2 separate regions of the Homo sapiens genome follow, and region 1 is linked to region 2. Evidence: fine-mapped expression QTL. A gene starts in region 2. The other region holds a variant in brackets. All regions are shown on one strand. Distances are from middle to middle.

Region 1 (5,376 bases), 27 kb before region 2:
AGCTTCTGGTTCCACTTGATCCTAAGACTCACCTGTGCTCTGGCCATTCCTGTAATTTGTTTACACAACTCAATAAACTATACCCCTCACTCTTGTTGCCTGAGCTAAGTCAGGATGGGTTTCTGTCATTTGTAACGAGAGAATGATGACTGACTAACTGATCGAGAGTCACCCTGAGGTAGGAAGATCAATTAGGAAACTATTGCAGATGATAACTGATGAGGGCCTGATGAAGGCACTGGGGTTCTGATTAGGGCCCAAACAGGAGGACACATAGGAATGGAAGGAGGGATCATGGCAGACGGTCTTATTCCATTATATCCCCAGATGTTAACATTGTGTCTGGCACATAGTAAGTGCTAAGTAAATATTTGTGGAAATGAATAATTAAATAAATGAATAGAGGCAGAGAGACAAAGATAAAAGCAAGACTTGCTGACCAACTGGATGTGGAAAGTGAGGAAGAAAGAAATGAAAGCTTGTACCCAGACCTCAGCCGTGAAAGGTTGGCTGGCTAGCAACACCATTCAAGACAGAGCTGCTTTGGATGGGGTCCATGAGGAGGGGTGGTGAGCTCCACTGTGAACCACTGGCATGTGTCTTCAAGGCAAGCGGCTGATCTTAGGGAACGGAGTGGTTAACTTTTCTTCAATAGGAACATCCATGTTGTTGGCCTCCCCAGCTCTGTCCACGTTACCTACAGAGTGACGCAACCACGTGCACTCAAAACTAGAGAAAGACCTACTTTTACAAGTAGGCAATGAACACAACCACCTCAGGGACTAGTGGCTCCTGATTAGGAACAGTCTAAAGTTAGCATGACAAAATCAGCTGTCAACTGTCAGCTTAATGAGTCTTCCGACTCCCTGAAGGAGCTCTCTAAGGTCCCCCTGAGGACAGCTTACTTCCCAACCAGACTGGGGAAGATTGTAGAGATGAGTGGAGAGGCCTGAAATTGGGAATTCAGAAAACACATTTGCTCTTCTCCTTTGGGGATGCCCACACTGAGTGAGGCTGGGCACATTTGGCAGCTTTTTATAAACTGGCATTGGAAAGCTGTCAGAGGTGGGAAATGCCCCCTTTTCTATTGGCATTCTTGTGTCCAGTCAGAAGCAGTCTAGGGAGGTGGTTAAGCAAGGGTTGTTAAATGTCACCAGAATTTAGTTTGAAGTGCTGACTCTGTTTACATCCCTGGGCGAGCTCATTAGCATGTGTCAGAAATGCAGCTTCAGTGGCCCCAAACATTCCCCACTGCTCCCAGGCTTACAGAACACCAGCCTGACATAGCAGAGCTACCTCGGGCTTCCTTGCAAGCTCCGCCTGCCAAGCAACCAGACAAGTCGTCCTCAACAAAGGCTTCTTTTGTGGCCCAAATATGCCCTGCTTTGATAATGCATCATTCCCTCTTCTGCTCAGGCTGAGGGGAGAGGGTGGGGCAGCGTATCCAGGTGGAGTGGAGCAGTGAATGTGGTCTGTGAATGGTAAAGCCCTATGGAGGAGTAAGGATCATGGATGCATTGTCAGTCTTAGAAGTGTTCCTACTGGCTTTAGCACTACCGCTATGCAGTAGCCAAGATAGGATATAACTTTGTGATCGAATCTTTTATTTTTTTTTAACTTTTCATTATGGAAAGTTTCAAGCATATGAAAAAGAAGAGGTGAAACCCACCACCCAGGTTATCAATTTATGGCTAATCTTGTTTCATCTACACCCTTCCACTGGATTATTTGAAGCACATCTCATATATGTCATTTTATCTGTAAATATTTCAGTATACACTCTAAAAGAGAATTTGAAAAAATAACCACAATGGCATTATCAAATCTAAAAATCACAATAATTCCTTAATACTGCTGGAATCTTATACTGATGGGCAAAGGAGCCTCCTGGTGCTATCTTCTCCTTTGCCCTCCATCTCCAACAGGAACAGTGCGCCAAGTGCAAATCAATGCAAAAGGCAAGATCCCACCTATGCTAGGGTCATTACTGCTTTGTGAGCAGCTTTAGCAATTTAAAAATATTTCTTGAAATAGCTTGATACAATTTTAAAAACCAAATAAACAGTCCTTATGTTTTTATCAGATCTTTTGGCCCTTACCAAAGGGCCAAGGACAGCCTATTAGAGAATCAAAGTGCTACAAGGATAGCCTATTAGAGAATCAAGAAGTGCCGGAAGTTGAACAAGATTCCTTGCCTGAGCAGCTGGTGACTGGACTGCCCTGGGGTCCTTGGCCTCCACTAAGATACAGGGGTAACTTCACGGTAACATGAATGTTTTTAGACTTCTTTCTGGTAGTATTGTATTAATAGTAATTTTTTTATTTTTTTTTGAGATGGAGTCTCACTCTGTCGCCAGGCTGGAAGTGCAGTGGTGCGATCTCAGCTCACTGCAACCTCCCACTCCCTGGTTCAAGCGATTCTCCTGCCTCAGCTTCCCGAGTAGCTGGGATTACAGGCACGCACCACCACGCCCAGCTTATTTTTGTATTTTTTTTTAGTAGAGACAGGGTTTCACCATGTCAGCCAGGATGGTCTCGGTCTCCTGACCTCGTGATCCACCCGCCTTGGCCTCCCAAAGTGCTGGGATTACAGGCGTTAGCCACCACACCCGGCCTAACAGCAATATTAAATATTGCTGGGGAATACATTTGATTAAGTATAACGTACATATAGAAAGTGTGCAAAACTCTTAAGAGTTTGTTTTGTAATAATAGTTATCATTGGCCAGGCGTGGTGGCTCACGCCTGTAATCCCAGAACTTTGGGAGGCTGAGGTGGGTGGATCATGAGGTCAGGAGTTGGAGACCAGCCTGGCCAATATGGTGAAACCCCATCTCTACTAAAAATACAAAAATTAACCGGGCGTGGTGGCGTGAGCTTGTAATCCCAGCTACTTGGGAGGCTGAGGCAGAAGAATTGCTTGAAGCCGGGAGGTGGAGGTTGCAGTGAGCCGAGATCGTGCCACTGCACTCCAGCCTGGGCGACAGAGCAAGACTGTCTCAAAAAAAATAAAAAAATAAATAATAAATAATAATAAGTTATCATTCACCTGGCTCTACACTTACCCGAGGATTAAGTTAAACAGTGAAAATGAGGTGGAAACAGCATAACTGTTACTAGGACAGC[C/T]GGTCACATAAATGTGGAGTTACCTTTATGGATGAGCAGGATGAGTAGGGCATCCCTGTGCAGGAGTGGCCTGCAGTGAGGAGTTAGAGCCCAAGTAGGAAGAGGAGCTTGTCTAGGCAGAAGGTGGCTGGGGGTTGGAGTGCCTATCAAAGCTGGTGATGGGCAGGGGGAGGTGAGGCGGTTGTCCTTGTTGGGAAGCCTGAGTGATCCATCCACAGGCTCTTGGGGCAACATACTCCGTGTTGGCTGCAAACACTGACTCACTGATACGGGGTCTGTTGACATAGAATCTTATACAAACTGTGGAATCCCAATATCTACACTGGTCTGTTGCAGGAATGCTGGGTAGTATTCAGAGATGCTCACCATTCACACATAGGTCACAAGGCTCAAATACATAATTGTCTTAGTAGTGATCATTAGCCTTTTTTTTTTTTTTTTTTTTTTGAAATGGAGTCTTGCTCTGTTGCCCAGGCTGGAGTGCAGTGATGCGATCTCGGCTCACTGCAACCTCCACCTCCCAGGTTCAAGAGATTCTTCTGCCTCAGCCTCCCGAGTAGCTGGGATTACAGGCGCATGCCACCATGCCTGGGATCTTCAGCCTTTTCTAAGAAGGAAAGAAGTAATTTCTCAATCCAAGTACCTGAAAAGATTCAGAGGGCCTGGCTTAAGAGAAGCAAGGGTATCAAGGATACGTTGAGGTATCAAGCAGGACTTTGATCTCTAATCAACTTCATTCTAATAAGCATTTGTCCTCAACAGCCTTTCAGTACCTGCACCTTCAAATCTTTTCCTAACACTCTGCAAGAAACATGAGGTTTCCTGCCCTCTGTCATTATACCTGCAACCTCCCATTGGGATTTGCAAAATAATTGGGATGAGCATTGTGGTAATCCTTCCTGGAGTTGCATTGTAGGTGGAAGTTGGTGACCATACTTCTAACAGGTCTCTGAGCTCACTGACAGTGTCAAGGACAAAGTGATCTCTAGAATGGCCAGGGGCATTGCAGGGCAAGGACCCAGAACTGTGGGATACTCTTCAAACTACTCACCATGGAACAGACACTAAAAGACTCAACTATACTCTTTTTCTCCAAGGCTAGAGAGGCAATATAGTTGGCCAAGCCCAAGGGTCCTGTAACAGAGTAGGTACTCCACAACAAATGCTTGTAGGTAAAGGTGGGAGTTAGTATTACCATGACAACTCCTCCAACCCTGGGCTTCCAAGAAAGAAACCATGATCTATCCCATTTCTCTTAAATTACAGCCCACACACTTTAACTTCAAACATCTATTGACAAGAATGCAGGGCCTGTCTCAGTTAAGCGATGTCATCAGTTCTCATTAGCCTCTTCATAGTCTCTTGAAAAGCATAAAGAAAATTACCTCTGGCACAGAAAAGGCTTTTAAACCAACCTTTTCACAGTATGTCTCAAACTGAACATCCACTTAAGTGTATAATTACAAAAAAGAAAGGGTATGCTAGATATGTTGACACAGGATCTCTAAATGTAGCTGAAGGAGTTACTATTATCTTCAAAGGCAAAACATCTTTCTTAGGCTTACAAGACAAACTATGTAGTGGAGTAGACAGGAAAGCAAATCACTAAGAGATTATCTCCCTCTAAGTCTTCTTTCTCTTTTTCTTTTCTTTTTTCTTTCTCTTCTTTTTCTTTCTCTTTGTTCTTTTCTTTCTCTCTCTCTTTCTCTCTTTCCTTTTTCTTTTTTGACACAGGGTCTCAATCTGTTGCCCAGGCTGGAGTGCAGTGGCACAATCTCGGCTTGGCTCACTGCAGCTGTGACCTCCTGGGCTTAAGCAATCCTCCCACCTCAGCCTCCTGCATAGCTGGGACTACAGGTATATGCCACCACACCCAGCTAATTTTTGCATTTTTTGTAGAGATGAGGTTTTGCCACGTTGCCCAGGCTGGTCTCAAATTCCTGAGCTCAAGTGATCTGCCCGCCTCAGCCTCCCAATGTGCTGGGATTACAGGCGTGAGCCACTGTGCCTGGCCCTCCTCTAAGGTATCACTGAAATTCCCCTCAGACCATCATCTAGCTTCTTTCAACTTCTCCATCTTTCAAGTGCCCTCATGATTTCAGCCTCTCAGCCCCTCCTATCTCCTAGCCCATCATTCACTTGCCTTAATGTCTAGCCTAGAGTGTGAGTAGTCTTTCAGTGTTATGCTTGTTACTTACTTATGATTCCTTGTCCACTTAACACTCCCCCAGCACTCCCTCCCATAAAAAT
Region 2 (5,376 bases):
TTTTGGAATAACATAATTTTTTTTTGGAGACAGTTTTGTTCCTGTTGCCCAGGCTGGAGCGCAAAGGCGCGATCTCAGCTCACCGCAACCTCTGCTTTCCGGGTTCAAGCGAATCTTCTGCTTCAGCCTCCCAAGTAGCTGGGATTACAGGCATGCACCACCATGCTCGGCTAATTTTGTCTTTTTAGTAGAGATGGGGTTTCTCCATGTTGGTCAGACTGGTCTTGAACTCCCGACCTCAGGTGATCTGCCTGCCTCGGCCTCCCAAAGTGCTGGGATTACAGGCGTGAGCCACCGCGCCTGGACAAAATGATCAGAATTTTTAACCATCAAATTGGAACAGAAATAGCTGAAGCCCAGACTTTCTGAATAAACAATGGAAAAATAGTACATTTAACATGACATGCAAAACCAAGGGTTATCATACCCTTCTCTCCCCATCAAGAACTAAACCACTTTGACTAAAAGTTTCAGAGGGTTTGACATAAAAACGGAACTTGGTGACAAGAGACGAAGGATTAACTCTCACCTGTAATAACCTGAGCAGTCAAAGCCTTTGTTAAATCGATTTAAAAGCCACAGAAAGCATCATATTAGATTATTTGTTATACAGAAGTCTTTGTAAGCTAGCTACTCAAAAAGTTTCAACGAGTCATTTAAGAAAAAATAATTTTGTAGAAACCACGTGCATTCTTGCAACAGAGGTTGCCCTATACACTAGCTATCTCAACTGCTACTATAATAATTGTATTCCAATTCTAATGCAAATTAAAGGACTAATTTGAAAGGGTAAGAATGGAAAAAGCTATACAGCATGTTGCTTTTTATATCTAGTCTTAAAATGAACACCGGGCAAAGTTTACTATTTTCAGTACTTACTGCCCAAAGACAAGGATTAAAAATCACTAAGAACATAACATGATACATTTTAAAAACTGTGGTCAAGTGGTTATCATTTTTAAATGGCAATGCTTTCCTGCTCAAATTCTTTACAGATTATACCACCTCTCAAGCCAGTTTTGGTCACTTTCTTCGAATTGGAGCTTACTGATCATCCCGGTTGGGTTCTAATAGAGCTGGTCTCTGAGCTGAGCCTACTTTTCAGCCTCCAGCCCCAAGAGGATATAAATACAGATAAGTACAGGATCGAGGGCTGAGGGACGCGCCACACGCAATACCTAGAGGTCTCAAAAACAGGAAAAAAAAAAAAAAGGCAGAGCACAGGAAAACGAAAGCTGAAAAAACACTGCAAAGCAAATACGTCCTCTCCTGGCCCACATGCTGGGTATAGCTGGATCTGTCAGCTTCGAGAATAGTTAGACAACCCTGGCCCATTGTTCCTACAGCAGGCTAGAGCATTTGGAGGGAAAAATACCATATCCGGCAGGGCCCGGTGGCTCACGCCTGTAATCCCAGCACTTTGGGATGCCGAGGCGGGTGGATTGCTTGAGGTCAGGAGTTCGAGACCAGCCTGGCCAACATGGTGAAACGCCGTCTCTGCTAAAATAAAAAAATTAGCCGAGCGAGGTGGCGGGCGCCTGTAATCCCAGCTACTAGGGAGGCTGAGACAGGAGAATTGCTTCAACCCAGGAGGCAGAGGTTGCAGGGGTCTGAGATCCCGCCACTGCACTCCAGCCTGGGCGATAGAGTGAGACTCTCTATCTCAAAAAACAAAACACCTCCCCCACGTCTCCCTCTACCGAGTAACAATCGGGAGAGAGTTCATCCTCAGGCCCAAGGCACGCCGGACCCGAGCGAGCAGGCGGGCGCGCAACCGCAGGGCGGACCGGGGCTCCGAGGCCTAGAGTCAGGCCTGGCGTCCCTGCGGCGGGAAGAAGGGTCAATCCACCGACTAGAGTGGCGGGGAGCATCACGCGGCGCTGCATGGGGCTCGTGGGGAGGGGAAAACGTATGGGGCTGGGGTCGCTCTGGAGGCCGGGGACTCGGACTCGGGTAGCCGCGGAGGCCTTTCTCACCATCGCGCCAAACTCTCTTCGCTACAGCAGCTGCCGACACCGCCGCCGTTACACGAGCTTAACTACAACGCCGCTAACAGCCAATCCTCGCGAGAGGAGCCGCCGGAAGTCGTCGAAAGTGCAACGCAAAAGAGCCTTTTGGATCATAGAGGCACAGTCACTTCCGGCAGCTAGAGCAGCTACTGACTCTGTTTCAGCCATCTTCGATAAAGGCAAAAAGGTAAGGGAAAGTTTCCAAGCTTTAGGAAGAATTATTTTTTTTCAAGACGCTGTCTTCCGTACTTTCGTTATTAAACATACGGCTCAAGTGATCACCGGTATAGACAGTGACATCAGACATCTTTCATTAGCCCTACTCAAAAATGGCGGCAACGTAAGTATCCTGGGCCGGAGGTCGGTTGTAACCCGGAAGTGCCTTTGTAAAGGAGGGGGTGGTTAGACAATCCGGAAGTGGATGGAATGAAGAGATGCCACTTGGCGGCCATGGCAGCTGTAGTATCGGCGACTCCGGGTCAAGGCCCGGTCGAGTGCAGTACCATGGGCAGCACCGGGTATAGGGCAGAGACAGCTTTGTGTCAACTTTGCTGCTGAACCCCTAGGACCCATCGTTAGAGACCTGCAGGACTCCTTTCCTCATCCCAGGCTCGGAGGAGAGTTTGCTGGGACTGGTGGGCTGGTTTCCTGCTCTGGGGGGCGGATCACCTTCGGGGCCGCCTCTTGGAGACAGGGGCGCCTAGGGAACGAACAGGTTCGCTTGAGTCACTTACCCGCCGCCGCCTAAGACATTGTGCCACCCTCAATCCGACAATCGAAGAAATCGATCATTCGCACATTTTCCCCATTGACTTTTCCCATCTCTGTTAACCCACGAGAATCTAATGACTGGCATCTGAGAACCCAGAGCCTGGGACCTTAGATTGCTGTAAGCTTTCTCTGGTGCTAATATCAGCAAAAAGGGTCTGTTGCCGGGTACGTTCAAGAGGAAGGTGCCTCGTGAACACATCTGCTGGTGGGAAGGCCTAAAGAACTGGAAAGCCCACTCTCTTGGAACCACCACACCTGTTTAAAGAACCTAAGCACCATTTAAAGCCACTGGAAATTTGTTGTCTAGTGGTTGTGGGTGAATAAAGGAGGGCAGAATGGATGATTTCATCTCCATTAGCCTGCTGTCTCTGGCTATGTTGGTGGGATGTTACGTGGCCGGAATCATTCCCTTGGCTGTTAATTTCTCAGAGGTAAGAAATTCTCAATTTTCTGTCAGCTGTCAGGATGGCTGTGAGATAGTAGTTTTAGTTGCAAAGGGAAGCTGCTTCCCTAGTTAAATCTCAAAGCTGAAGGTCTCATTAAGAAAGACTATCTTTTTTAAAAGATACATGACACTTAATAATAGAAAGAAACCTCATATTCATTAGTGGAATTCTTAACCTGGGGTGGATAGATATTCCACGGAAGATCCTGGAGTATTCTGAATCCCCTAGAATTGCTTACAAAAATTTGAGGTTCTGTGCATTTACCTGGAGAGAGGCACCATAACATTTCTTTTGATTCTCAGAGGTTTCATGGAATCAAGATTCCAGATTGTTATCAAGAAAATAAATGGAGGGCTGGGCGCGGTGGCTCACGCCTGTAATCTCAGCACTTTGGGAGGCTGAGGTGGAAGGATCGCTTGGGCCCAGGAGTTCTAGACCAGCCTGGGCAACGTGGCGGGACTTTGTCCCTACAAATGAGGCTGAGGCAGGAGGATCGCTTGACCCCAAGTGGTTGAGGCTGCAGTGAGCCGTGTTTGGGCCACTGCACTCCAGCCTGGACAGCAGAGTGAGATCCTGTCTCCAAAAAAGAAAAAAAAAGAAATGGAGAATGTTATTTTTCTACATGAACTGAAATCAATATGATAACTTCCTTTTGAGAAAGTCAAACACACCTTTCTGAGGAAAGCTGTTTTGTTTTTTGGATGTCTGTACTAGAATGAATGTAAGAAAAAACTAAGATTGTTCTTAACTCACATTTCCTTTTAAAGAAGGGGAGCCTTGGAATTGATATTCTGAAGTTGTTTCAAATCTATTTGCTTAGCAATGAATTTTTGGTTAATACGTTTTGACATTTTCGTTAATTTGATTGGCACCTTGAACAGATGTTAAGCGAGGGTCCCGGGAAGAGGGATAGATGAAAGCACTGTTCAGTGAACATGCTGATAGGTCCTTTAGGTAGGCAAAAGGAATTCACGAAGTGCACAGCGTTCAAAGATTTAGGGGGGAAAAACTACTACATTCAAAGGGAACAAGATTTCATGAGTTTGTCCTAGAGTTCAGCAGTAAAATAGGCCCTAGTTTCAGTGCCATTCCTGAAAGTACTTTCAAAGGAGGCCTGAAGTAGAAAGGAAAGGTATAAATGAAATATTAAGTACACCTTGAAGAAACCTGAGGAAGAGGAGACATTACAGGTGAAAATAGCCTGTGGGTGGGAAAGAAGGTGGGACAAGGTGTTGTCAGTTTGAGGAAAAGTAAAGCCCATAGCCAGATGGAACAGATGCTTAAATTGTTGTTGTTCTTTTTCTGTTTCCTTTTTAATCTGTACCCCTCAGCATCTAATGATAGCATTTTAAAAAATTACGTGCATTACCTAACTTCACTTAAAAAACTCAAGCTGGGTGCGGTGGGGCGCGCCTGTAGTCCTAGCTACTCAAGAGGATAAGGTAGGAGGATTGCTTGAACCCAGGAGTTGGCCTGGGCAACATTGAGACTCTTTCTCTTAAAAAAAAAAAAAAAGAAAATAAAAATCAGTGACATATAGATGAGGAAACGGAGACTGGATAGGTTCATGAAGTTTGTTAGAATCAGAAGAGAGGTATTTTTTCAGTCTAGCTTTTCTGACTCAGACTAGTTCGTAGCCACTAAGCATTTCGGCAAAGGTACATGGTACATATACATGGTAGCCTGTGTGCCAAATCCAGCCTGCAGACTGTTCCATTAGCAGAAGTTTATTATTGTTGTTCTTTACCAGTATTTCCTAGAGGCAAAGGTTGGGTCGGGCTGAGTAGCAGCTGTTAGGCACAGTCCTCCTTGCCCTTGAAGCCTGTTTCACTTATTTGGGTTACCTGCCTGCCCAGTACTTTGTGAACCTGCTATGTTTCCTTTGACATAACCATATTTTCTTATAACTATATTAGAATTGAATTGACATTAGTAGGGCTGACATGTGTGAGATTTGGGTTGGTTTGTGTATTTTTAAACATATTGAAGTAACATTTATGAATAATCATAATTAATTCTGATAAGCAACCAGTAAAACTTTTTATTTCTATAAAATGCCTTTAACTTTACCAATTCCAGTATTTTTTCAAACTACCTTGAATGATTATTGCAATATGCGGATATATACTATTTCCTTTTTCACTAGAAGG

Evidence for each region. PIP is the estimated chance that this variant, and not a neighbour inherited with it, causes the effect. A credible set is the group of variants that fine-mapping cannot tell apart.
Region 1: its variant is the best candidate, but not a certain one, in a credible set for the expression of ERH in whole blood (TOPMed, PIP 0.71).

The regions. Positions count from the first base shown.
Region 1 is chr14:69,368,941-69,374,316 of GRCh38, forward strand. It overlaps a transcript of GALNT16 not described here. Among named protein-coding and RNA genes, the nearest start is that of ERH, 27 kb to the right of the region's middle. The variant C/T (reference allele first, on the strand shown) is at 3,127.
Region 2 is chr14:69,396,255-69,401,630 of GRCh38, forward strand. ERH (ERH mRNA splicing and mitosis factor) reads right to left here and starts at 2,045. Exons shown (of 4, transcript NM_004450.3): 1 at 1,977-2,045. The coding sequence starts at 1,979. SLC39A9 (solute carrier family 39 member 9) reads left to right here and starts at 2,438. Exons shown (of 7, transcript NM_018375.5): 1 at 2,438-3,211. The coding sequence starts at 3,116. RefSeq lists enhancers at 1,045-1,553, 1,554-2,061, 2,263-3,462, 2,391-2,730 and a silencer at 2,054-2,294.